Linked DNA regions of Homo sapiens. The protein of the gene in region 1 purifies or fractionates together with the protein of each later gene. This does not show direct contact. Each region holds a gene or a part of one and is shown in the gene's direction. Other genes may lie near its edges. The genes, in order: PCF11, ATF7, TXNDC9, EEFSEC, CAPRIN1, POC5 and CPSF7.

The links.
Region 2: the proteins of PCF11 (region 1) and ATF7 fractionate together in Homo sapiens (co-fractionation; one large-scale study listed by BioGRID). This does not show direct contact.
Region 3: the proteins of PCF11 (region 1) and TXNDC9 fractionate together in Homo sapiens (co-fractionation; 2 studies listed by BioGRID). This does not show direct contact.
Region 4: the proteins of PCF11 (region 1) and EEFSEC fractionate together in Homo sapiens (co-fractionation; one large-scale study listed by BioGRID). This does not show direct contact.
Region 5: the proteins of PCF11 (region 1) and CAPRIN1 fractionate together in Homo sapiens (co-fractionation; one large-scale study listed by BioGRID). This does not show direct contact.
Region 6: the proteins of PCF11 (region 1) and POC5 purify together in Homo sapiens (co-immunoprecipitation; one large-scale study listed by IntAct). This does not show direct contact.
Region 7: the proteins of PCF11 (region 1) and CPSF7 fractionate together in Homo sapiens (co-fractionation; one large-scale study listed by BioGRID). This does not show direct contact.

The regions. Positions count from the first base shown.
Region 1 is NC_000011.10:83,170,631-83,174,130, forward strand, and holds part of PCF11 (pre-mRNA cleavage complex 2 protein Pcf11), read left to right. Parts: intron 1-1,187; coding exon 1,188-1,284; intron 1,285-3,500. UniProt on the Homo sapiens protein: Component of pre-mRNA cleavage complex II, which promotes transcription termination by RNA polymerase II.
Region 2 is NC_000012.12:53,514,969-53,518,382, reverse strand, and holds part of ATF7 (cyclic AMP-dependent transcription factor ATF-7), read left to right. Parts: intron 1-774; exon of another isoform or gene 775-1,028; coding exon 1,029-1,246; 3' UTR 1,247-3,414. UniProt on the Homo sapiens protein: Stress-responsive chromatin regulator that plays a role in various biological processes including innate immunological memory, adipocyte differentiation or telomerase regulation.
Region 3 is NC_000002.12:99,329,834-99,333,333, reverse strand, and holds part of TXNDC9 (thioredoxin domain-containing protein 9), read left to right. Parts: intron 1-91; 5' UTR 92-123; coding exon 124-312; intron 313-3,500. UniProt on the Homo sapiens protein: Significantly diminishes the chaperonin TCP1 complex ATPase activity, thus negatively impacts protein folding, including that of actin or tubulin.
Region 4 is NC_000003.12:128,264,981-128,268,480, forward strand, and holds part of EEFSEC (selenocysteine-specific elongation factor), read left to right. Parts: intron 1-3,500. UniProt on the Homo sapiens protein: Translation factor required for the incorporation of the rare amino acid selenocysteine encoded by UGA codons. Replaces the eRF1-eRF3-GTP ternary complex for the insertion of selenocysteine directed by the UGA codon.
Region 5 is NC_000011.10:34,093,231-34,096,730, forward strand, and holds part of CAPRIN1 (caprin-1), read left to right. Parts: intron 1-3,248; coding exon 3,249-3,443; intron 3,444-3,500. UniProt on the Homo sapiens protein: mRNA-binding protein that acts as a regulator of mRNAs transport, translation and/or stability, and which is involved in neurogenesis, synaptic plasticity in neurons and cell proliferation and migration in multiple cell types.
Region 6 is NC_000005.10:75,707,438-75,710,937, reverse strand, and holds part of POC5 (centrosomal protein POC5), read left to right. Parts: intron 1-3,062; coding exon 3,063-3,201; intron 3,202-3,500. UniProt on the Homo sapiens protein: Essential for the assembly of the distal half of centrioles, required for centriole elongation. Acts as a negative regulator of centriole elongation.
Region 7 is NC_000011.10:61,402,229-61,405,975, reverse strand, and holds the end of CPSF7 (cleavage and polyadenylation specificity factor subunit 7), read left to right. Parts: intron 1-1,271; 3' UTR 1,272-3,247; downstream 3,248-3,747.

The DNA.
Region 1 (3,500 bases):
TGCATACTGAGACAACTTTAAGGCAGTATGTTTACAATTTGTGATTAATTCGGTTGGTTTTGAATGACTACTTTTGCTTGCGTGCTGAAATTCTCCTAGGCTGAGTTTTACTTCTTTTCCAGGTGCAGACATTTTCTTACTATGACAGATTTATTTTATAGTAGTAAGATTGCATGGAAGAAAATACAAAATAAGAAAGATTTTAAAAGTACATTAGGAACATTATTGATAGAAAGTAGTCCTTCTGTTCATCTCTAATGGTACGAAAAAACAGTTGGCTTGCCTAGATTTACTCTACTGTATATCCTTGAAAGAAATGATACTCTTATTGACAGATACTCTAGAATGGTACTTACTTAGTCTTGTTTCTACATTACACAGAATCGGTGGGGTTTTTATTATGTGTACTCACTACCAAAAGTCCACATGTATACTGAACAAGGATTATAAATGGATATTTATTCACATACCAGCAATATGTAGAAGTCCTGCCTCCCTCTGGACTGCAAATGCTGTATTTGTATGCCAGTATAGTTCTTGCTCCATGACTATTCTGTTTTTTAACATTCCCTTTGACATCTTTTACAAGACCTTTTACAAGATTACTTTGTAATGTGGCTATAACCATGTGCAAAGATGATGGCCAAGCAAGATGCTTACCTGCTTGGTAATTCAGAATGCTAATTAGAACAGGCTTTTGATATCTGTGGAAAAGTGGCAAGGGTTAGGAGTTCTGGCCTCAGTTTTGCTCCTAACTAGCCCTTGTGATTGTGTATAGATCATATTGCATTATGTCAGTTCTTCTATTTGTAAAATAAGGGAAAGCACCAGCAAGGTAAAGTGACTTGTGTAAAGTAACACAGCTAGTTACCTTATATTTGCATGGTATCTTACAGTTTCCTTTTTGGGGGGCTACTTTGCCTCTCTAGTAGGTACCTTAAACTTTTCAAAGAAGTTTTAACCCATTCTCAGTAACTTATACCTCTATGAAACAGATAAGGGAAGGTTTTATTGTTCCTGTTTGTAGAAGACCTAGAAGTGAAGTGATGCAGCCAAGTTATCTTTCTAAATCTTTATTTATAAGCCAGGCCTTGTGACATCTATGAATATTTTTATGTAATTAGGATGTTAAAAGTTTTACTTGAAATATAGAAAGCATGTTCTTAAAATTAAGGTTTTTCTTAAAGGTTCTGAGTGGTGTTGCTCAGCCAGTAGCTTTTGGTCAAGGACAACAGTTTTTACCAGTTCATCCACAAAATCCTGGATTTGTTCAGAATCCTTCAGGTATGTACTTTCTGAACTTTGTTTTTCAAAAGACAAATGATTATTGTTTTGTTGAATAGCTAACTTTGTGAATTTTAGGAAATGACAGTTTTGCAAAGGTATATTTAATTTAGAGAAATTTAATCTGGCTGACATATTTTTGTTCCTTTTCTAAGTTTATTTACATTGTGGATGTGTATTCATAATGACCCTATTTACAGCTAGAGATGGTTAGCGGGGACTTGTAGTCCACTAAACAAAGGGAAGGAAACCTATTGGGTGGAAACTGGGAGTGGGAGGGAAGGTATGACATTTGTGTTGAGATAGAATGAAATAAATGACAGACCTTAGAAATCTCAGTGAATACTGAGGATACTGCATTAATAAAGTTGATTAATTTTTATGTTTTTGTGGGCACTCAAATAGCAAAAAGCGGCTTTCCTAGCCAGGTTCACTGATAAGCATCTTTGTTACTATGGGGTGATGCTTAGTACTAGATAAAAGGACTTTTAAAATGGATTTTAGTTTTATTTATTTATTTATTTATGAGGCAGAATCTTGCTCTCTTACCCAGTCTGGAGTGCAGTAGTGTCATATTGCCTCACTGCAGCCTCTGCCTCCGGGGTTCAAGCGATTCTCCTGTCTCAGCCTCCCAAGTAGCTGGGACTACAGGCGTGTGCCACCAGACTGGGCTAACTTTTGTATTTTTACGGGGTTTCACCATCTTGGCCAGGCTGGTCTCGAGCTCCTGACCTCAAGTGATCTGCCCACCTCAGCCTCCCAAAGTGCTGAGATGGCAGGTGTGAGCCACCATGCCCGGCAAAATGAATTTTAGTTTTAATATGTGGTAATAGGGAAGTACATACATTAGTGATACTTGCTTTCATTTCTGAATCATTGAAACAGCTGTTTCAGAAACATGCTTTACTGTAGTATTGAGTTAATCAGTTTACAATAAATTTATGGAGTTTTCCAAAACTTCTGAAGTAATTAGGAAATCCTAGCCAAGCTCTTTTTTATACATTAGTCCTTAAATTGTGTCAAGAAATTCAATGAATTTGGAAGCTTTTAAGTTTTAATTTCTACATGGACAATTATGACTAATTAATATTTGTTATTATTATTATTTTGTTACTATAATGAAAAGAGAAGGAAAGAATTTGGGATCTAAAGCCCAGAAGACCAGGGTTGGAATCTCTACTATGTTACTTTATAAATGCGCAGGCTTTAAGCAAGTATCTCCCCTGAGGTTCAGTTTTTTCCCTCTGTAAACAGCATATGGGCCGGGCATGGTGGCTCACGCCTATAATCCCAGCACTCTGGGAGGACGAGGCAGGTGGATCACAAGGTCAAGAGATGGAGACCATCCTGGCCAACATGGTGAAACCTCGTCTCTACTAAAAATACAAAAATTAGCTGGGTGTGGTGGTGCATGCCTGTAGTCCCAGCTACTCAGGAGACTGAGGCAGGAGAATCGCTTGAACCCAGGAGGTGGAGGTTGCAGTGAGCCAAGATCAGGCCACTGCACTTAGGCCTGGTGACAGAGTGAGACTCCGTCTCAGAAAAAAAACCAAAAACCAAAAAAAAAACATGATATGGTAGTATCAGTATTTGTCTGTTTTGTTGTTGTTTTTTTTTTTTTAGAGAATCAAATGATATAGTATATGCAAAAGTACTTTGTAACTTGTAACTTGTCAAGTGCTATATTAATGTATTTTCCTTTAGAACTCAGTTTTTATTGTTGAGCAGAGGATTTGTTATATTGGGGTTAGTGGCATGAGATGCTCTACAGAAACTACAAATTTTCTTGTTTCTTTCTTTCTTTCTTTTTTTTTTTTTTTTTTTTTTTTTTTTGAGACGAGTCTTGCTCTTGTCACCCAGGCTGGAGTGCAGTGGCATGATCTCAGCTCACTGCAACCTCTGCCTCCTGAATTCAAGCAGTTCTCCCGGGCTCAGCCTCCCCAGTAGCTGGGACTACAGGCACATGCCACTACACCTGGCTAATTTTTGTATTTTTAATAGAGGCAGAGTTTCACCATATTGGTCAGGGTGGCTTGAATCCTGACCTCAGGTGATCCACCTGCCTTGACCTCCCAAAGTGCTGGGACTACAGGTATGAGCCACTGTGCCCAGCCTTGTTTTGCTTTTACAACCTTGGGTTATATGTGTATGTGTACAGGACATAGCAGTGTCACAGAGGAAATCATAATTATTCCCCTTGTTAGGGGGTATTGAAT
Region 2 (3,414 bases), on another chromosome or scaffold:
CTTTAGGTGGAGTGGCATAACTTATAATGTTTTATAATCATTAATGCCTAGCTAATTTTTAGTCAGGAGGGTCTTAAGATTTCTTTGTAGTTTTACATGTTAACTGAACCCGGGCCAGGGACTGGCCATTCATAATATCATTTAATTATAGCTTGATATCTATCAGACTTACCTGTGGTACAACTACATGGTAAAGGAACATTAAAAATAATGGAATAGGCCTGCCACAGTGGCTCACGCCTATAATCCCAGCACTTTGGGAGGCCAAGGCAGGCCAATCACTTGAGGTCAGGAGTTTGAGACCAGCCTAGCTAACGTGGCAAAACCCCATCTCTACTAAAAATTCAAAAATTAGCCAGGTGTGGCAGTGTGCACCTGTAGTCCCAGCTACTCGGAAGGCTGAGGCACGAGAATCACTTGAACCTGGATGGCAGAGGTTGCAATGAGCTGAGATTGCACCACTGCACTCCAGCCTGGGCAACAGAGCAAGACTCAGTCTTAGGAAAAAAAATAAATAAATAAAATAATGGAATAATTCAGTTCCTGTGAGAATTAATCAAAGAGGATGGCTAAAAAGAGATCTATTTTAAATCATCTTTAAAGAAATGAAGGCCAGGCGCAGTGGCTCATGCCTATAATCCCAGCACTTTGAGAGGCCAAGGCAGGAGGATCACTTGAGACCCTATCTCTTAAAAACAAGAAAGAATAGAAGTAATGAATAATAATAAGAGTTGGTAATGAACTATGCAAAGACCTAGAAACCAGACAGTGTAATTAACATGTTGGAGATTCATTTTATTGGAATAGATAGGTTAATTTTGGCCTAGTTCTTCCCTTCTTACAACTTCCCATTTCCTAGCCCATTTATGACTTAGAAGCCAGGATTCTGGGAAGTTTTCCCCAAAAAAAAGATGGGTTTCATTTCCCTTTTGGGCTCCTTTAGAATTATGGCAAAAGGTAGTCCTGCCTCTTTCCCCATTCTGTTTTCTAACCAATTGCTCTCTGCTCTTTGCCCTCCTTCCTGGCAGAAAGCCCCAAGGAAAGCTCAGAGCCAACGGGTTCTCCAGCCCCTGTGATTCAGCACAGCTCAGCAACAGCCCCTAGCAATGGCCTCAGTGTTCGCTCTGCAGCTGAAGCTGTGGCCACCTCGGTCCTCACTCAGATGGCCAGCCAAAGGACAGAACTGAGCATGCCGATACAATCGCATGTAATCATGACCCCACAGTCCCAGTCTGCGGGCAGATGATGCCTCCTCTGGTGGAGAGGTCCTCAGCCAGAGCTCGCCCGCCCAAGAGCCAAGAGAGATGTCATCTTATCCCCTCCCATCTGCCTTGGACATGGCAATATGGGTGGGGGGAATTGTGTGTTGTGAGTAATGGACAGATATGGGGCTTTTTAGCCATGTGGTCATGTACGTTTGACACCTGTGCTGGGGGCCTCCCAGCCCCGGAGCCTCATAGATCATCCCCCAGGGTGGGGTTTCTGATGCATCCACAGCCAAAGGCCTTTCCAGATGGTCCGAACAATCACCCCTGCCCCATGCACGTGTATCTGTCTCTTTTAACACTAACCCTTGGCACTTCTAGGTTTGGGGTTTCTCAGTTCCCTCTCTTCCCACTAAGCCGTGGCTGTTACCTTTTTGTTCCTTACCAGCATGCCACTTCCTGCCAGATAGAGGGAGGCTAGATTTGATGACATATTACCCGCTGACCCAGCCCCAGCCACCCCATGGACTCAGGACTCAGGTCTCCCATAGCTGCTTATTTACCCGTTTCCTTTTTCCTCTTCCTTAATTCTAGTTAAAACATTCACTTACGGAGAATGTAAGGTTACCTTTGATGTATGAAGTAGCAGTATTTTCCAGTTTTTCCATAAGCTTTATTCCTTCTCTCTACCTGCCACCAAAAAGAAAGAAACCCTCAAGAGTTCTAATTCTTTTTCATCTATTTGCAGAGCTATTTGGGTACCTCATTTTGTCCCTTGACTTTAGTGTAGTGGTGGGGTCTTTCCCACCACCCCACTAAGCCTTGGCAACCTCATTTTGTGGCCTTATTATTAAAGATTGCTTGGTAGTGAAAAGGGAAGGGCCCAGAATCTGACTGGCTGATTCTGTCTCCTCCCCTCCCTCCTTCTTTAGTTTAACCATCAGGGCAGACAGGAACAAAGTATTTCAAAGCTTGTTCCATCAAGTTAGGGATTAATCGATTCCTTTATGTTTTATAAGAGTTTACCGGCCAAAGCATATTGTCATCTTTGGTCATTTTTCTGCTCCTGCTTCTCTCTCTTCATTCCCCTATCAACATTACCGCCCCTGTCTCTCTTCTGTAACTACTTCAGACTCAGCCCTCCTGGAGGCTGTCATGTAGGGGACTCTCGAGTTCCTTTGTTCTACCCCATCTCTCCCCCTCACACATCTGTCTGCTTTTCTGAGCTAGAGTCTTCTGTTCACAAGTGCCCATCACCGTCTGGACTATCTTCTTTCTCTTTCACCAGGTTCCTAGCTTAGCCACTAGGTCTTCCAGGTCCTCCAGAGTTTCTTCAACCCATTTCTTCTCTCTTCTCTTTACATGCAGTGCTCCAGGATCTTGAAGCGTCATAGCCAAGATGCTGAGTGGGTTTACTTGAGTATAAGATTGAAAGGAGGGAGGAAGAGGAGAGGGAAAGTGCAGAACTGGTCCCAGCAAAGGACCCCAGGTTCTGGCCTGGGAAATTGGTGACTATTGCTCTCAACCATTCTTACTTTGAAGAGTTGGGTTGCAGAGGGAGCAATTCATCTCTCTTGTCCCTCTTCCACGTTAAGGCTTCTCATCTCCCCTTGGCTCTGAACTATGCAGTTTCTACCAGGACCATAGGAAGCAATTCAGAGCCAGAGGCCTGTGGATAGATAGGTCAGCTTTAATTGCCTTTCCGTATGAAACCCTTCCAGTTGTCCCAGAGCCACTTTCTGCCATCTGTGCAAGCCAAGAATGTCCTTCTCTCCATCTTTCCTACCTCCATCTTAAACATACATACAAAATAACTGCCAGCTTCCTTTCTTATTTTGTCTCCAAAATTGACTGTCACAGGGGAATGAGAAAATGTTCTAAGCTACAAGATTCCCGTTTCCTTAAAGTGATATCCTGTCCTAGTGAACCAGTCAGGTAACAGGTTCTGCTGCATTTGTTTTAAATTTCCCCTCCTGCTTTTCAGAGCTGGTGCTGAACAGGCCACACCCCTAAAGACAAAGGAGAGAAAACACGGTTTTCTCATCCTCTACCATCAGGTACCCAACAGGAATAGGCCCTGAAGTGATTCAGACTAGCAAATGTTATGGCAGATGGTCAGGACGCAGGTTACCACATCCAGGGACTTCACTTTTGCCTTTAAAAATTCACAGCCGTAACTTGTGCTCAGGACTTCCCCTTTAGCTGGCTG
Region 3 (3,500 bases), on another chromosome or scaffold:
TATACACTTGCCAGAATTTTTGAAAATGGTAGAGAAAACCTTGCTTATTGTTTGCATTTTTTAAAATGTATTTTGTAAATCTTCTCCCCAGCACCCAGGCTGAACTCTGTACCATTTGGAAGAATGGAAGCTGATGCATCTGTTGACATGTTTTCCAAAGTCCTGGAGCATCAGCTGCTTCAGACTACCAAACTGGTGGAAGAACATTTGGATTCTGAAATTCAAAAACTGGATCAGATGGATGAGGATGAATTGGAACGCCTTAAAGAAAAGAGACTCCAGGCACTAAGGAAAGCTCAACAGCAGAAACAAGTAACCTCTCTGCCCTGCTTTCTGAAATTGCTATAACAGTATGCGCCTAACAACTTATATATACATGTGCTGTAGTAGTTACATTTCGTTCTTTGTGTTTAGGGTTTTTAAAATTCAGAATACCTATTACTGTTAAAAATTTGCCCAGAAAAAAATATGTTTTAAAGACATTCAAAATTAGCCCAATCTCTATATTAATCCACAGTCGAGTAAAAGAAAGATCTGCCCAAGATCGTTTTTCTGAGCTTGGATTTGTTTGGTTGAATGGAGGGCTAGGGAGTCATTGGTTTCCATTTCAGGTAATATTAAAGCCGATTTAGCTATTTTCAAAGCAAACGAGATAAGACAGATGAGATAAGAGCAATTAAGTCAATTTATGTTGAAAAATGTATTTCAGGCATTTCCAATGAAATAATTATGTGGCATATTCAAAAGAATGCATGCTTTGTAACAAAGGTGGCCACAGCTCTATCGTTGTTGCCTCTTAGAATGTTTGTGTAGAATAAACGCAGAGTTGTAAACTCTGACTGAAACCAGTGGATTAAATTCTGTAAATTGAAATTTTTTTTTCTGCTTTTTGAGATGGAGTCTCGCTGTGACACCCTGGCTGGAGTACAGTGGTGTCATCTCAACTCACTGCAACCTCCGCTTCCCGGCTTCAAGCAATTATTCTGCCTCAGCCACCCGAGTAGCTGGGACTACAGGCGCACACCACCATGCCTGGCTAAGTTTTGTATTTTTAGTAGAGATGGGGTTTCGCCATGTTGGCTAGGCTGCCCTTGAACTTCTGACCTCAAGTGATCCGCCCACCTTAGCCTGCCAAAGTGATGGGATTACAAGCGTGAGCTACCGCACCTGGCCAAATTGAATTTTGATTAAAACATTTTTTCCACTGGGTTACATGGAAATACTTTATCACCAACTCTGGTTCCTTTTCAGTTGACTGTGACTTAAACATGAGGCTTAACTTTTCTGAAGAAATAGGGAGTTTTGACCGGGCATGGTGGTTCACATCTGTAATCCCAACACTTTGGGAGTCCAAGGTGAGCGGACAACCTGAGGTCGGGAGTTCAATACCAGCCTGGCCAACATGGTGAAACCCTGTCTCTACAAAAAATACAAAAATTAGCCAGGTGTGGTGGCGCACACCTGTAGTCCCAGCTACTCAGGAGGCTGAGGCAGGAGAATCTCTTGAACCCGGGAGGTGGAGGTTGCCGTGAGTCGAGATTGTGCTACTGCACTCCAGCCTGGATGATAGAGCAAGACCCAGTTCCCCCACAAAAAAAGAGAAGGAGTTTTGTTTGTATTGCTGTAGCATCACTTTGATATGTTTACACCCTCATGTTTAGAAGAGTTACTACAAAAGGAAATAATCTTTTATAAGTGAGTCCAAATTTTTATATTTTGAGTTTCTAAAATAGAGTACGTTATATGGCTTTTACCTGTACCCTACCGTATTTTAAAAAATAGGCTGCTTTTCTTTTTCTTTTCTTTCTTTTTTTTTTTTTTTTTGAGAGGGAGTCTCACTCTGTTGCCCATCCTGCCTTGACCTCTCAAGTAGCTGGGATTACAGGTGCCTGCCACCATGCCCAGCTGATTTTTGTACTTTAGTAGAGATGGGGTTTCATCATGTTGGTCAGGCTGGTCTCAAATTCCGACCTCAAATGATCCGCCTGCCTCAGCCTCCCAAAGTGCTGGGATTACAGGTGTGAGCCACCCCACACCAGGCCCAATTGGCTTCTTTTCATAGTATAGGGCTGATAATTAGTATGCAAAGGACGGATTATTGGAATTTAAGGTAATATATGTTTAGGTTCTGCCACAAACTCATATTTCATAGTCACATTTAAGTACTAATTGCTAATGTGCAACTAAAAATAATTATTTGTAACTAGGATATTTTTGTAGAGAGACTGAATTCACCTGATTTGCAGTGATGAACATACGTTAAATAATGTCTTAAAGGAACTTTTTGGCAGTTCAAAACAGTGGTCTGAATATAATTAAAACCAACTAAGGCAGACTGGCTATAAGCCTTTTTTATTATTAATGTATAAATCAATTTAAAATGAATTTGTCATCGAGTAATTCAGAGGGTCTTATTTTAGAACTTTCACTGCATTTTAGTAGGTCTTTTATTAAAATATTTTCTGGAAATAGTCAAGAAACCTAGTGATTTGTATAGATATTCTTTTTATAAGAGATTATACAGTAATTAGATTATGCAGTAATTTTGATTTTCTGATCCACGAGGGTATTGGGGAGATCATTGTATGCATTGACTTACAGTCGGCACTTAATAGACCTAGGTGAATCTATATTCTTCTGTCAGCCAAGCACCCTCCTACTGTTAACTAGAGCTGGCACACTTAGGTAGGGAGCAGAATAGAGGGATAAGGTAAGAAATAGGAGTTAAGCAGAGGCTTGGGTGACAGCCACTGACAGCCAGGTGCTGCCCAGCTGCCATGCCTCAGGTAGGCCCATCCTGCTTGATTCTGTTCTGCAGATACCTTAGGAGCACATGCTGTCCAAAAGGGGCTATGCTAAGAGCACAGGGGTGTAGTGAATGTGTCAGGAGAGGCCCTGAGCATTGGTAGAGGTTTGGAATGGGCACATCCTCCCTCAAAGGAGCCCAGGACAGGTTCGGGTCTTCAGCCTCTTGGTTAAATACCTGAGAATAAATAATGAAAAGAAATAGCAGCTTTTTTTTTTTTTTTTTTTTTTTTTTTTTGAGATAAGAGTCTTGCTCTGTTGCCCCGGCTGGAGTGCAGTGGCACAATCTCGGCTCACTGCAACCTCCACCTCCCAGGATCAAGCAATTCTTCTGCCTCAGCCTCCCAAGTAGCTGGGATTACAGACGCCTGCCACCATGCCCGGCTAATTTTTGTATTTTTAGTAGAGGTGGGGTTTCGCCATGTTGGCCAGGCTGGTCTTGAACTCCTGACCTCAGGTGATCCGCCCACCTCAGCCTCCCAAAGTGCTAGTATTACAGGCGTGAGCCACTGCGCCCGGCCTAGAAATAGCAGCTTTTTAAAAGACAAATACTTTTTTTTTTGAGACAGGGTCTTGCTCTGTCACCCAGGCTGGAGTGCAGTGGTGTGATCTTGGCTCACTGCAACCTCCGCCTTCGGAGTTCAAGCAATTATTGTGCCTCAGCCCCCGAGGAGCTGGGATTACAGGTGTGTGCC
Region 4 (3,500 bases), on another chromosome or scaffold:
TCCCTAATTCTCATAGCGCCTGTTTATTGGAGGCCTATGATGTGCCTCAAGGAGGTGTTCCCAAGTAGGTCTTCTGTGTAGATAAAGAAACTGAGGCTCCAGAAGGTGAGGTGGGCTTGAGATCACATGGTTAACAAGTGGGGCTGCTGGAGGGGAAACCTCCCTTTCTGGACGCTGTACGTCAGGGTGGCAAGTATGTGTGGAGTTATTTCTGGGTACCTTTTTCTTAACCACAGTAATTTCAAATTAAACATGACGTGAATCTTATGATGCTCAGAATCACAGAATCTGGAAGAAATCCAGGTTGGTTTTGCACTCCTGGTGGCCATCGACAGATGCCGCATTATTCTTCTGAAGACCTGTGAGAAGGATGAGTGGTTGGTGCCTTCCCATCACCCCTCCTTCTACTATGATGGCCTGGCTCTGATTTAAAAGATAGTGCCTTGATATTCCCCTTATTTAGAAGGCATTTTTAATAGTTTTACTTTATGCGACAAGAGAAACTTACAGCCTCATTGACTGCCCTCCCCTTCAACAAGAATAAAAGGTAGGGAACACATGCTACTTAGAATTCATGTGAGACCTTGCCTGGAATGCTGGGGTCCAGGGCAGTTCTCTAATCCTTGAAGGAGCCTACAGTGCAGGGAAGTGGAGGTGCTCAGCCCTGTGGACTCAGCTAGCTGCTAGAGAGGCTTGGATGTGCATGATTTCAATTTGCATGTTAATTGGGAATGGCTACCTGGAGGCTGTATTGAGGCATTTTAAGGTTGTCTGGCTCACTAGGTGTGTTGGTTAAGGTTCTCCGGAGAAACAGAACCAATGGGAGATACAGATATCTAGGTATCTATAGATACATAGGTAAAGATACATAGATGTAAATATGTAGATATCTGTATCTCCTATTAGTTTTGTTTTGCTGGAGAACACCAACTAATGCACCTAGTATTAGATGCAGATAGATAAATAGATACGTTTTTTAAGGAATTTGCTTATACTATTATAAAACCTGGCAAGTCCAAAATCTACAGGGTAGGCTGGCAGGATTGAGGCCTAGGGAGGAGCTGCAGCTTGAAGGCCATTTGCTGGCAGAATCCCCTCTTCTCTGAGGAGGTTAATCCTTTTGTTCTTAAGGCCTTCAACTGATTGGATGAAGCCCACCTACATTATAGGGGTCATCTGCTTTACTCAACATCCACCAATTTAAATGTTAATCTCATCTGAAAACACCTTCACAGAAACACTCAGAATAAAGTTGGAGCACTGTGGCCCAGCTAAGTTGACACATAAAATGAACCACATCACCCGCTGGGTGAGAGGGCCATGATAGCAGCACCTGGCCTGAGTGAGGGAAGTGGAGAGGGTCCCTACTGGCACCCATGTCTTGCGTGTGCCATCCCTCATCTAGAGCAGCATGGTTGGATATAGGGAAGGGGCATTTCATGGAGGGCAGGCATGAACAGGGTTCCCCCAAATGAAGGCAACCTGAGGTTTCAACCCCCCAGCTCATTTTACAGCAGTGTGTCTATTACTTCCTTCTGCAGGGGCCAGGGGTATTAGGGAAGAGTCTCCTGACCAGAAAGGACAAAACAAAAGAAAGGACTTGGCTCTGGCCAGGTTCCAGAGCTCCTTGGATCTAGTGGGAGGAGTCGAATGGCAGGGCCCCACCATATCCAAGGAGCCCTGGAACCTGGCCAGAGCTGGGTGTTAGGATGTCCCCCAGACACTGTGAGTCACAGTCCCCTCCTTTACCTGCTGTCATGTCCTCCTCTGAAGACCATTGGTCCCAGAAAAAGACCACTTGAATAAAATCTAGTTTAAGCCAGGGACTAAAAGTGCAAATCTTCAAAAATAAAGCACAAAAGTGTAAAAGTAGATTCAGTTTATATTTAACAAAATTAAGATTACTTTGGTGACTGTTTGCAGATTCTTTGCTAGAACAGAAAATGAATCAGTACTAAATTTCTTTCCAGTCTCTGTGCTTCCTAAGTCAGACCTCTGGGGGCCACTCTGACCTGGCATCCCTTCCACTCTGGGAGAAGACATGCTTGCAGCTTGGGAGAGGACCTGGGAGTATGAAAGAGGTGTCAAAAGAGGGCTCTCTGGGGGGTGGGGTAGACTTTGAATTGGGGGTACCTGAGGTTCTAGAGGGAGAAAAAGGTTTTTGATAAGAGTCAGTGGCTGCAATGTTAGGGCTGAGGGCATGGAGAAGGGCTGAGGCAGAGAAGTCAGTAGTGGTAAGGAGGCAGGGATGTTCGAGTGGGGTCCTGTTCTGAGCTTTTTGGCCACCCTCTTTGTCCTTATAAAGGTGGAACTTGCCTATCAGGATGCCAGTTACTGATCTTTAGTACTTGGGCACATGGCAGGTGCTTGGCAGATACAAATTTAATTCTCCTTTTACTTTTGTGCACCTGTTTTTCCCCAGCCTACTTTTTAACACTTTTGGTGTCTACTGCCTGATGATCTAATTTACTAGTCAGGAAAAGCAGAACTTGTAAGCAATGTACTGAGACATTTGGTTAAGGAGATTTCTAAGCAAACTGTGAAAGATGCTGCCTTGTTTCTCCATTGATGCTTATAGTAAAACATGAGGGAAAAGGAATGAATTGAGGAAGGAACTGTTAGCAAACAGAAATCAGCGCTTGATGATTTCGGAGGTTCTCAGTCCCTCTAGATTGCAAAGGATGTTAAGATTAGGAAATTCACTGCTGAGAAAGCATACCTTGGAGAGAAGGCCAAAGGTGAGCCTGGACAACCTTCTGTTGAAGAGAGGAGGTGTGTGACTCACAGATCCAAGCAACTTAGCAGCAACCAGAAATAGAGATGGACTTCTATAGCAAAGTTATGCGGAGAGCCGTCTTGGCTAATGGCATGGACCCCTTGATGTATATAAGAGACCCTCAAGGGTTTTGAGAATGTTATACCAGCAAGAACACTGGACTGAAAGGGAGAGAGACTTGACAAATGAATAAAAAGCTGTCAGACTTCTGGGATTCTACAGACAAGAAACAGGCTGATAGAACAACTCAGCTACAAACACATGTTATCCTTCAAAAACTAAAAAAGGAAGAATGACTCTGAGAGCAGGGCTCTGGAAACAGAAGTGAGGCTAGGGGAGTAGCCACAGAGGTCAGTCTCAGGTATTGAAACCTCATGGAATTTGCCCTGCTGTGTTTTAAACTTGCTTGGGACCAATGAACCTTGTATTTTTTCCACCGTCTCCCTTTTGGAATGTTAGAAGTAGGTAAATTGTTTTCTAGGTCCACAGATGGAGAGGCATTTTGCCCCAGGATAGACCATATCTAGAGTCTCACCCCTACCTGATTAGGTGACTTACATGATGACATTAGGAACTTTTTGAGCTGATGATAATTTAGATGAGATTTTGGACTTAGAGTTAATGGCCTAATGGACTGAGAGTTTGGGGGATGTTTGAAGAGGTGAATGTATTTTGCATGTGGGATGGATGTAAATTTTGGGTACCAGAGGGTAGACTATAGTAG
Region 5 (3,500 bases), about 49 Mb from region 1:
TGTTGCCCAGGTTGGAGTGCAGTGGTGTAATCAGATACTGGAGCCTTTAACTCTGGGGCTCAAATCCTGTACTGGAGCCTTTAACTCCCCACAAGTAGCTTGGACTGCAGGCTTTTCTCAAACTCAGGGCCTCCAGCAGTCCTCCCACCTCTACCTTATAGGCATGAGCCACCATGATGTCTTCTTTAGTTCTTTAATTCCTCAGAATTTAATTGGAATCCCACAACAAACCAGCAGTCAGAGGAGTTAATACTTTCATTTTGTCAGCCCGATTTTGAAAAGTTGTAAAATTTTCTAATTATTCAATTTCTTGGTAAACTTGGATCAGCATTAGATTTTTCAGTAGTAAATTCTTACACATCCTGTAGTATTCAGTATCACTAATATGAAGCTCGAATCTTCCATACTCTGATAGAAGTTATCAGTTATACTATGCTCAGCTTCCAAATGATAAAAACTAGTGGTGTGATCACCATGGCTCACTGTAACCTCTGCTTCTGGGTTCAAGGGATCCTCCTACCTCAGTCTCCCAAGTAGCACAGGCCACCATGCCTGGCTAATTTTTTTTTTTTTTGTATTTTTAGTAGAGAGAGGGTTTCACCATATTGTCCAGGCTGGTCTCGAACACCAGTCACATACGCAGCAAGTTCTCTTTAATCTCAGGGCCTTCATACTTACTTTCCTTCTTGCCGAAAACTTTCTCCCACTGATAAGTACATGGATTGCTTTTTCTATTTTTTTAAAAAAAGTTCATTTGTTTATTTTTAATTGAGAAGTAGAAACTATATATATGTGTATTTATGGTATACAGCATGATGTGTTGAAATGTGTGTCCGTTGTGGGCGGGCTTCATGGCTGGCACCTATAATCCCAGCTACATTTGAGGCTGAGGTGGCAGGATTGCTTGAGGCCAGGCGTTCATGATGAAATAATATGTATACATTGTGGGCCGTTGTCCAGTGCAGTGATGCAGTCTCGGCTCACTGCAACCTCCGCCTCTTAGGTTCAATCGCTTGGGTTCAAGCGATTCTCCTGCCTCGGCCTCCTGCCTCAGGCCTCAGGTGATCCACCCGCCTCGGCCTTCCAAAGTGCTGGGATTACAGGCGTGAGCCACCATTCCCGGCCTGATATTTGTTGAAGAAATCATTTCAGTATGTCCCATCATTTTAGAAATTTTATTTTGAATTAGTGTCTAATCAGGAACAACATGACAGAATCTTTGGCTTTTTAAAATGGCCTACAAGTTTATACTTTACCAAAATTTAAGTAGGAATTTGGGTATTTTAAAATAAAATGAAGGCTGGGTGTGGTGGCTCACGCCTGTAATCCCAGCTCTTTGGGAGGCCCACTTGAGACCAGGAGTTTGAGACCAGCCTGGGCAACACAGAGCCCCACCTCTATAAAATAAATACAGAAATTAGCAGGGTGAGGTGGTGAATGCCTGTAGTTGTAGCTACTCAGGAGGCTAAGGCCGGAGGATCACTTGAGCCCAGGAGTTCAAGGTTGCAGTGAGCCAAGATTATTTGACTGAACTCCAACCTCAGCAGTACTGGGTGAGAGAGCTAGACCTTGTCTTAAAAGTGAAAATTAAATAAAATAAAGATCACACTTAAGTTATTATGCTGTGAGTTTCTTCCTTTCTTTCCTTTCCTTTTTCCTTTCATTTTTTGAGACAGAGTCTTGCTCTTGTCTCCCAGGCTGGAGTGCAGTGGTACGATCTCGGCTCACTACAACTTCTTCCTTCCAGGCTTAAGCCATCCTCTCACCTCAGCCTCCCAAGTAGCTGGGACCACAGGCATGCACCACCATGCCTGGCTAATTTTTTGTATTTTGTTGTTGTTGTTGTTGTTGAGATGGGGTCTCACTGTGTTGCCCAGCTGGTCTCAAACTCCTGAGCTCAAGTAATCTGCTCAGCTTGGCCTCCCAAAGTGCTGGGATTACCAGTGTGAGCCACTACACCCAGCCTGGCTATGAATTTCTTACAGTGAGATTTGATCAAGATTAAAAGCTGTTATTGATAAAATGATTCTAAAATTCAGTTCTTTTGGCTACTTTGTACATGGATACACATGAACCATTTTACAAGGAAAATGTTATGTGTATTTGTCATTCACTTACAATTTTAAATTTTGGGAATATAATAAAAGGCAATCTATGTAAAAAGATGACACCGATGTAGTTGGTTTACTAAGTAATTCAAGAGGAGCAGTGGCTCTCTCTTTTTCTCTAGGTATTCCCTAGTGCTTTCATCGTAAAATAGGATTCTAACAACTATTAATGTATTTGGAGTTTCTTAAGGGTGTAAAATAGGTCAAGTAAAGATTTTCAAGAGTCATACAGCTGCTTTTCTCTCTGCCCCAAAAGGGGAGATTTGGGTTGGCCAGCAGCTTCTGACCCTTGTTGTTAGTGTGTGGGCCTTCCTTTGTTCTGTTGCCTTCCTCACCTCCCAAAGGTACTTTTAGCACCCTATTTTTTTCTCCTCTTTGAATTATAAACATTGTTCTGTAGTATTGAATTTTTGAAAATTTCTAGATTCTAGAACTCTGTCCATTGTGGATGGAGCTTGTATATATGTTAGTGTGTACCTTAGTCTAGAACCTTCAAGTGGGTTGAGTGCCAATGTGAGTACCATGTGATTGTTTTCTAAATTGGCTATACTTGCCATTTTAAATACTTTGAAATGGAATTTGGCATTAAGGGCTACAAGTCGAAGGCCTCTGCTGATTAAACTATGTAGTTGATGACATATTCTACCATCTAGCTGCTTAAATATGAGAGAGTGGTTTTGTATGTTTTACTAAGTAAAAAAAAGGATATTTAAAAGAATAAGAAAACTTCTACCACTAAGGAGCTTTATAATGAAAAGAAGTAATTAAATGGTACAAAATGGTAATGTACTAAGAGTAAATCTTTTGAGTTATTTTGGGTCTCTTGTGCTAAAAAGTAGATGCCTTTCAGAAGACGTTAATATAGCCTTTCAAATAATTTGTTTGGAAGGATCAATCATGCACCCTGCTTTCAAAGGTTTGGAATTGTGGTTGGAGAATTTTACCCCCAATAGCTGAGTCTAAGGGTAGGAGAAAGGTAAGAGACTTTATTCATGTGTAGTTTTTCTTATCATTGTATGCAAATTTAAGGATTAAACTTTAAGGAGACTGTATAAGACACTTCTTAAACTAGAAAGTGCGTGGGAGAACAAACGGTAATGAGCTGTTTATGTATATATCTTTTTCTTTTTTAAATTATAGTGGTTGGCACTTACCATGGTTCCCCAGACCAGTCCCATCAAGTGACTGGTAACCACCAGCAGCCTCCTCAGCAGAACACTGGATTTCCACGTAGCAATCAGCCCTATTACAATAGTCGTGGTGTGTCTCGTGGAGGCTCCCGTGGTGCTAGAGGCTTGATGAATGGATACCGGGGCCCTGCCAATGGATTCAGAGGTAAAAAAATAAAAAAGGAGGTTCTAATGACCTTTTACTAGTTCAAATTATTTTTTG
Region 6 (3,500 bases), on another chromosome or scaffold:
TCTCTTATCCAGAGCAGAAGTCAGACTAGGGAAGCCACAAGTGAAAGCCACTGACTTCCACTTCTCCCTCCGTTCCTACATGCTAGAGGTGGTGATAGGCTAACTCTGAGTAGAGCTGACTTGGCTAAATCTAGTTGCAACTGACACCACAGCAGGAACACTATAAAAAGTTTATGAACCTCACAATATAAGATCACCATCATATTAATCTGCTCAGGCTACCATAACAAAGTACCATAAATTCATAGGCTTAAACAACAGACATTTATCTTCTCACAGTTCTGGAGGCTAGAAGTCCCAGATCACAGCCCAAAAGGGTCAGTTTCTGGTGAGGGCTCTCTTTGTGGATTGCAGACAGGTGCCTTCTTGCTGTATCTTTGCATGGCCTTTCCTCAGTACAGTATGTGCAGGTGGGAGGAGAGCATGCACAAGGTTCCTGGTGTCTCTTCTGATGAGTACATTAATGCTCTCAGGGCCCCAACCAATGACCTTATTTAACCTTAATTACTTTCTTGAAGGCCTCATCTCCAAATACAGCCACACTGGGTGTTAGGGCTTCAGCATATGAATTTTGAGGGGACACAAACATTCAGACTCCGTAACTCCATAACAGCCACACTTTTATATATTCTTAGCCAAAATCAAAAGTATATTTTGGGTGTTTGGGAAGTATAATAGTGCTTTAACAGAAACCAAGTAAGGGTGGTTTAAGTGGGTTCCTTACAGTTTCATTCTGTCTCTCATAAATTCTGAGCTGATACGTAGTCCTGAGATCATCTGAGGACCCAATCCCTTCTCTCTTTTTGCTGTACCATGAGCTGTTGACCGTGTTTGCATTGTCAGGTACTGGTGCACTGACAGTGTACTACCACTAGCCCATGGGAAGAGGGGACCAGCAGGAAGCAGCTTCGTTTTTAAGGACTTCACCTAAAGTTGTACACATCATTTCCAGTTGAATCCCATAGACCAGGTCTCTTGGCCACACCTAGCTGCAGAGGAGGCTGGGAAATGTAGCTGGGTGGCCATTTGCCCAAATCAAACCCTGGGGCTTTATTAAGTTAAAGAAATTAAAAAGAAATGGATGCTGCTGGATTAGTTACAGTCTCTATGCACTTGAAATTTTATGTATTAGTTTATTAGGACCAACACACACATTCAGGTTTATAGGAACTAGTAAATATCTTGTGCATGGCCCCAATTTATTAAGCTCTTTGGGAATTTCTTTTTGATAATTAGAAAACCAATATGCTTTGGGAAGTGTATTTTTTTTAACCTAAGGATATTTAAATCTATTTAAATAATCATAGTTACTTTTGTCAATGTAAAAATTAAATGTTGGTGCTCGCTTCAGCAGCACATATACTAAAACTGGAGCCACACAGAAAATTAGCATGGACCCTGTGCAAGGAGGACATGCAAATTTGTGAAATGTTCTATAATTTTTTAATAATTTTTTTAAGTTTTATAATATAAAAAAAGTTGTATTGTGATATCCTAAATGATTTGTTTCCTAATAAGAGCCTTCTGTCTCAGTGATAACCATTATGTAAAATACTGATTTTTATTTGCTACTAGGAAATGTAAGTTTAAAACTCAGACAGATGTTTATTCTCATGAAGGTGACATCACTAACAAAAATGGTTGATTATAGCAATATGAAGGAGATTCTGGTTGAATTTTCTAAAGATTTTCTCTTTGAAATATCTCTCTCTTCCTCTTCTGTCGTTAGCCTTAAAATATATAAAAATCAGTATTTGCTATACCTAATGTTTACTGCGTGTAAGTATCTATGTTAAATATGTGAATCAGGCCGGGTGCAGTGGCTCACGCCTGTAATCCTAGCACTTTGGGGGTCCAGGGCTGTGGATCAAGAGGTCAGGAGTTCAAGACCAGCCTGACCAACATGGTGAAACCCCATCTCTACTAAAAGTACAAAAATTAGGTGGGCGTGGTGGTACAAACCTGTAATTCCAGATACTCAGGAGGCTGAGGCAGGAGAATCGCTTGAACCTGGGAGGCAGAGGTTGCGGTGAGCCAAGACCATGCCACTGCACTCCAGCCTGGGCTACAGAGCAAGACTCCATCTCAAAAAAAAAGAAGAAAAAAATTGTAAATCAAGAAATCAAGGTTGAAGCGCAAACCAGGTCACTCTTGTACATGTAATTGCCATAAAAGCTAGCAGTTTTCAAATATATAAAAGCATAAGCTTTTTTAAAAAACAATTTTACTTAAAATTCCGATATAAAAAAGCAGATGAAAACAAAACTACAGTAGTATAGATTTATTTTGTAAATTCAAATGCAATCAGTTAATAAAAACAGTTAAGCTGCCTTGATAAATGTACATTTGAAATTGGGGGGTAATAGAAGGCCATTGCAGTTTTATAAACTTAAGTATCCAGTTTGCTTCTATATTTTGTTTAGGTTACATAATTTTTTTTCAGTTCCAAAAATGGTATCTTTTTAATAGCATGTCTCATCTTCAATTAAACCAATCTGACATATAAAATTAAGTGATAGAAAATTTTTGATTCAGTGTTGAGTCACTCACAGAACCTTATCACCTCTTCATACTTTGTTGTTGTTTCCCCAGAGACAGGATCTTGCTCTGTCACCCAGGCTGGGGTGCAGTGGTGCCATCTTGTCTTACTGCAGCTTCCAGTTCCTAGGCTTAAGTGGTCCTCCTGCCTCAGCCTCCTGAGTAGCTACAACTACAGGCACACACCACCACACCTAGCAAATTTTTGTAAAAAATTTATTGTAGAGATGAGGTCTCACTTTGTTGCTCAGGCTTCAAGCCATCCTCCTGCCTCAGCCTCTCAAAGTGCTGAGTTTACAGGCATGAGTCACTGCACCCAGCCCTCTTCAAACTGTTAATCATAAATATAAAAATCACACAAGAAGCACTCGAGGAACTCAAGCTTGGAATAAGTGGTAAAACTTTGTAATATAATAAGCATGGGACTCTATTATGGTAATTAAATTTCTTTAAAACAAATTCAGTTGAATATATTATAACATTGTAACTGTTACACTACATTATTGATTATTGGCCTCTCTTAGGAAGAATATGAAGAACTGCTTCATTATGCTATAGTGACTCCAAATATTGAACCCTGTGCTTCACAGTCATCTCATCCTAAGGGAGAATTGGTGCCAGATGTCAGAATTTCTACAATTCATGATATTCTTCATAGTCAAGGTTATATATATTTTTCAAGATATCTCTTAATTTAAAATATTACTGAGTTTATTAATGATACTGACAGGATTGTGAAAATGCCTGTCCAGATCAGTGATTCTTCTCAACCATTTATGTGTATTAGTATCATCTAGGGGAGCTTTTTACATTTTAATATATTATTCCTGACTCTCGTGTGACAGCTTGATTTTTCTTTGAACTTCATTTGACTCTTACTTTTATGAAGAATAATAAAGTTGAAGCAATGCTATGGCAACTGCATGGCTTTTTGGTATGTTGTATCTCAGTACTTGTTCCAA
Region 7 (3,747 bases), about 22 Mb from region 1:
TCTCTTCAATTTGGATCGAATTCAAAGATTCAGAAGCCCTAATGGTATGTAATTGAGTGCACTGAGGGCTTCAGTTTTCCCTTAGAGAAAATGGGACAAATACCAGCCTGCGTAGGTGTTTAGACAGGCCAGGAAGGCTTAGGCCATATAGATTCTGAGGACCCAAGCTGAAAATAGTGTCATTTCGGTGTGTACAAGGATCAGGGAGGACGTAGATGTCTCCTCTAGGTTTTATAAGGCCACTTTACAGAAGTAGTTATATAAAAGGTAAACATTTGTGCGTAGGCTGTGTTGCCAGTTTGGGCATTAGGAGAAATTCTAATTCCTCATTTTCCCTTTGGCTATTAATTCTGTTTAATATGCTCAGACTGACCATACCACCACCCGCAGATGGGTATTGCAGCATTGGAACAGGTGCTGAGTATAGTAGGAACTTTGTTTGGTGGCCATGTGACAGGTGGCTTAATAGACCCTTTTGGGTAAAACTTCTTAACTGCATTTAGGTTTCTTCCATGCTCTGCTTTCTGTTCTGGCCTGGCCACGTGACTCCTGCTTAGTGTTAGTATGTTTCCTGGTTCCTCACCTATGGCTGTCATGCGAGGAAAGACTTAAAATCTCGAGTTTTAGTACACTTGGAAAACCTCTGGGGCTGTGTTTGTGTACACACATACTCATAAAGGCACTTTTAGCCAGGACTCCTTTAAAAAGAAAAAAGAAGGATTTAAGAGTTTCCTGTGTATGTGCATCCTGCCTGCTAGGGCCTCTTGGGTGTTTGGGGATTAATGGATTTGGTTGTGTACATACTTGTTTTCTTACCACTAAACCTCCCATTTCCAGATTTTTCCCCCTCCCCTTAAGGTAAGCTATGACTTGCACAGAATAGACTTCTTAACCTATATTTAAACTCACCTTATTCCCTTTTAGCAACTTTTCTTGAAATATGTCACAGTTTCCATACTTTTGCAGCCAAAGTCTCCTTTTCAGTCGAACGTTCAGAGACCTCATTTTGTTCTGTTTTTTCACCGAATCTTTATAGTGGATGTCACTGCTTTTTTTCTCTCTACTCACAGTAGCTTCTCCTCCAGCCATTCCTCACCACTTCTAGTGTCAGACAGTCCTGCTTTGTTTTCCCAGACTTGCATTCTCTGTCTGCATTCCTTACTTCTTATGTTGTAGCGTTAGAATATGTGTGTTTTATATAAGCCCCTGTCATTCAGAAAGTAACCTCTAACTTGTGTTTTCTTTCTTTTCTTCTGATGTTCTCATTGCAGGAGTCTGGTTGGAAGCAAATGTTTTTTTAATGGACTTGCATCTCCTCACCTTGATCAGGACTAAAGGACGGAGGCCGCCCCACCCCCTTCCCTTTCCTCCAAACCCCTAACTCCCTCCAGACACCCAGGGAATACCCTCTGCCCCACAGGATTGAAGACTGCTTGGCAGTCCTCCCAATCCCACACCTCCTGTTTGCCAGGGGAAAGAACCTAAAGACTTCGTGTGATTGGGAGGGGTGGCAGACAGGAAGAAAACATGTCCAGGCCCCTGGTCTCCATAGAGAATGGTGCTTTGTCCAAGAAAACGTATGAGTTTCTGATTCTCCGGGAGCCGTTCAATGGTGAGGTTGATGGGAAGACTTCCTTCCCAAAGAAAATAGATCCTCCATGCAGGATCTAGGAGAGTGACTGGGTGTGCCAAAATATGCCCAGGGTCCTGCCCTCAGCACTAGATTTAATGGGGCCAAGAGGGTCCAAACCCCTTGCTAACATACCACTTCTTTGTTTAACTCCTTTACCTTTCCAGCCCTTTGAGGAGGGACCATGAGAACAGAAATTACCTTATGAAAAGCTACTTCTGTTCCTGCTTTCCCTCTCACGTATTGACGGTTTATTTCTTTGACCTCCCAGAGGGCTGAACTCTTTCAACTCTGCGCTGCCCAGCCTTCTCAGTGGACTTGCCCCTCCTAAGCAGAGAAGGCCTATGAGGTTGCTTGCTGCTGGGAAGCCTGGCAGAGCCAATTACCACCCTCTGCTGCTTAGTGCTTGGGTACCTCTTGCAATAACCAGCTCTTAGTTGTTCCCTTTCCCTGGGGCTTTTCCATTTAACACATGGAGCCCTTCCCCCAGAAGGCTACTTCCTTGTTTTAGAGGAAGGTACTGCCCATTGGGAGATGGGGACATTGGGACCTCAGCAATGAAGAACCCTTGTGAAGTAACCAGGAGGAATGGGGAAAGAAGCAAGTTGGGCAGGATATGGCCTACTTCCATAGGCTTTTCTTTTTTCAGGTTTGATGTAAGCATGGGCTTACATCCCCCAGGTACATACTTTTACTTATTGTGGGATAACCTGGCACTAGTAGGCAGGTAAAGTCACAAATTTGGTGTCTTTTCACCTTTTGACTGTTGACTTAATAGCTCCTCTCACTCTGCCTGGAGATACTTCCTGCCTCAGATGAGGAGCCAGAAGAAACAGAGCCCGACTTGAATGAACTCAGCTCAGAGTTCTAAGGACCAGCATTCTGGGGGCCATTTTCTCTACAGGCAAATGGAATTGCTTTTCCATAACATCCAAATTGTAATGTGGTTGCTGCTGAAGGAGGAGGCAGCAGCGAGGTCCTGCGGTACCCATGGGGTGATGCTACTTCTGCATGCATCTACAGGGCATCTGACACCTAACATGAGACGTGGCATGTGAGATGAGACTTGGCATGTGAGACATAGGGTCACTAGAGACCCTTCTGGGTCAGAGGAGAGAGACTGAATTGGACTAAACCCGTCCTCTGTTCCCAGCACGTTTCTCATATAGCCCTCAGTCACTGAGGGAGTCCCCCGCAGGATTGGAGAGGCACATTCCCTTGGGACAGAGGCTACAGGTTGGAGCTTTTTTTCCCCTGTCCCCCAACCCCATCCCCACCTCCACTTCAGAACATGGCACCCCACCCAACTGGCCAAGTGTTAAGTGATGTGCTTATTGAGAGCAACTCCGGGTGTCTTTTAAAATGTAGAGAAAAGGTGACAGTTTAAGGAAAAATATATATAGAATACCAGAAATGCCGTTTACCCGGAGAATTTTTTTCTCCCCATTTGTTTTGTTTTTACTCAATGACACCATTTTTAGTTTTATTTCCTGATAGCAAAAGGAAAAAAAACACCCATCCCTCAAAAAGGCCAAGGTCCCGTCCCCCTGTTGTCGGTGATTTGTTTGTCTTTCTGATAGGTTGAAAATTGTGTAATAAACTTGATGACGCTGTCAATCTTTTATACTGCATTGTATTTTTTTCCTTTTGTAACAAAATATTTTTAAATAATAAATGGGGTGTGAGCTGTTTTATGGATTCTGCATTGAATAGATTTGTTGAGGTGTCTGGGGCATGGGCATGGGCTGATGTAGACACTCGAATGATGGTGAAATGCCAAGTTCTTAGCTAGGATTGCATGTCAGGCAGTGATACATGGCTTTAGTTGACTGTGGAAAGCCTCCTAAGAGACCTCTAATGCAAACCTTTGGAGGCATCCCTTAAGGTTTAGCTTTTTTCCTTGGCCATCTAAACAGCTGGTTAAAGAAAACTTCTAAGTTATCCTTTACCCTTCAAGATTCCTAAGACTTATTTTCAGAGCAAATGTTCTACCTTGTGCAGTTAAATTCCAGTATCAAGTTCAGGAAGGGAAGAATCCTTTGATAGGAGTTAGAAGATCTGACTGGTAGTGCCTAGTTTACCACCTGTTTATCTAAATATGGACAAGCAGTGTAACC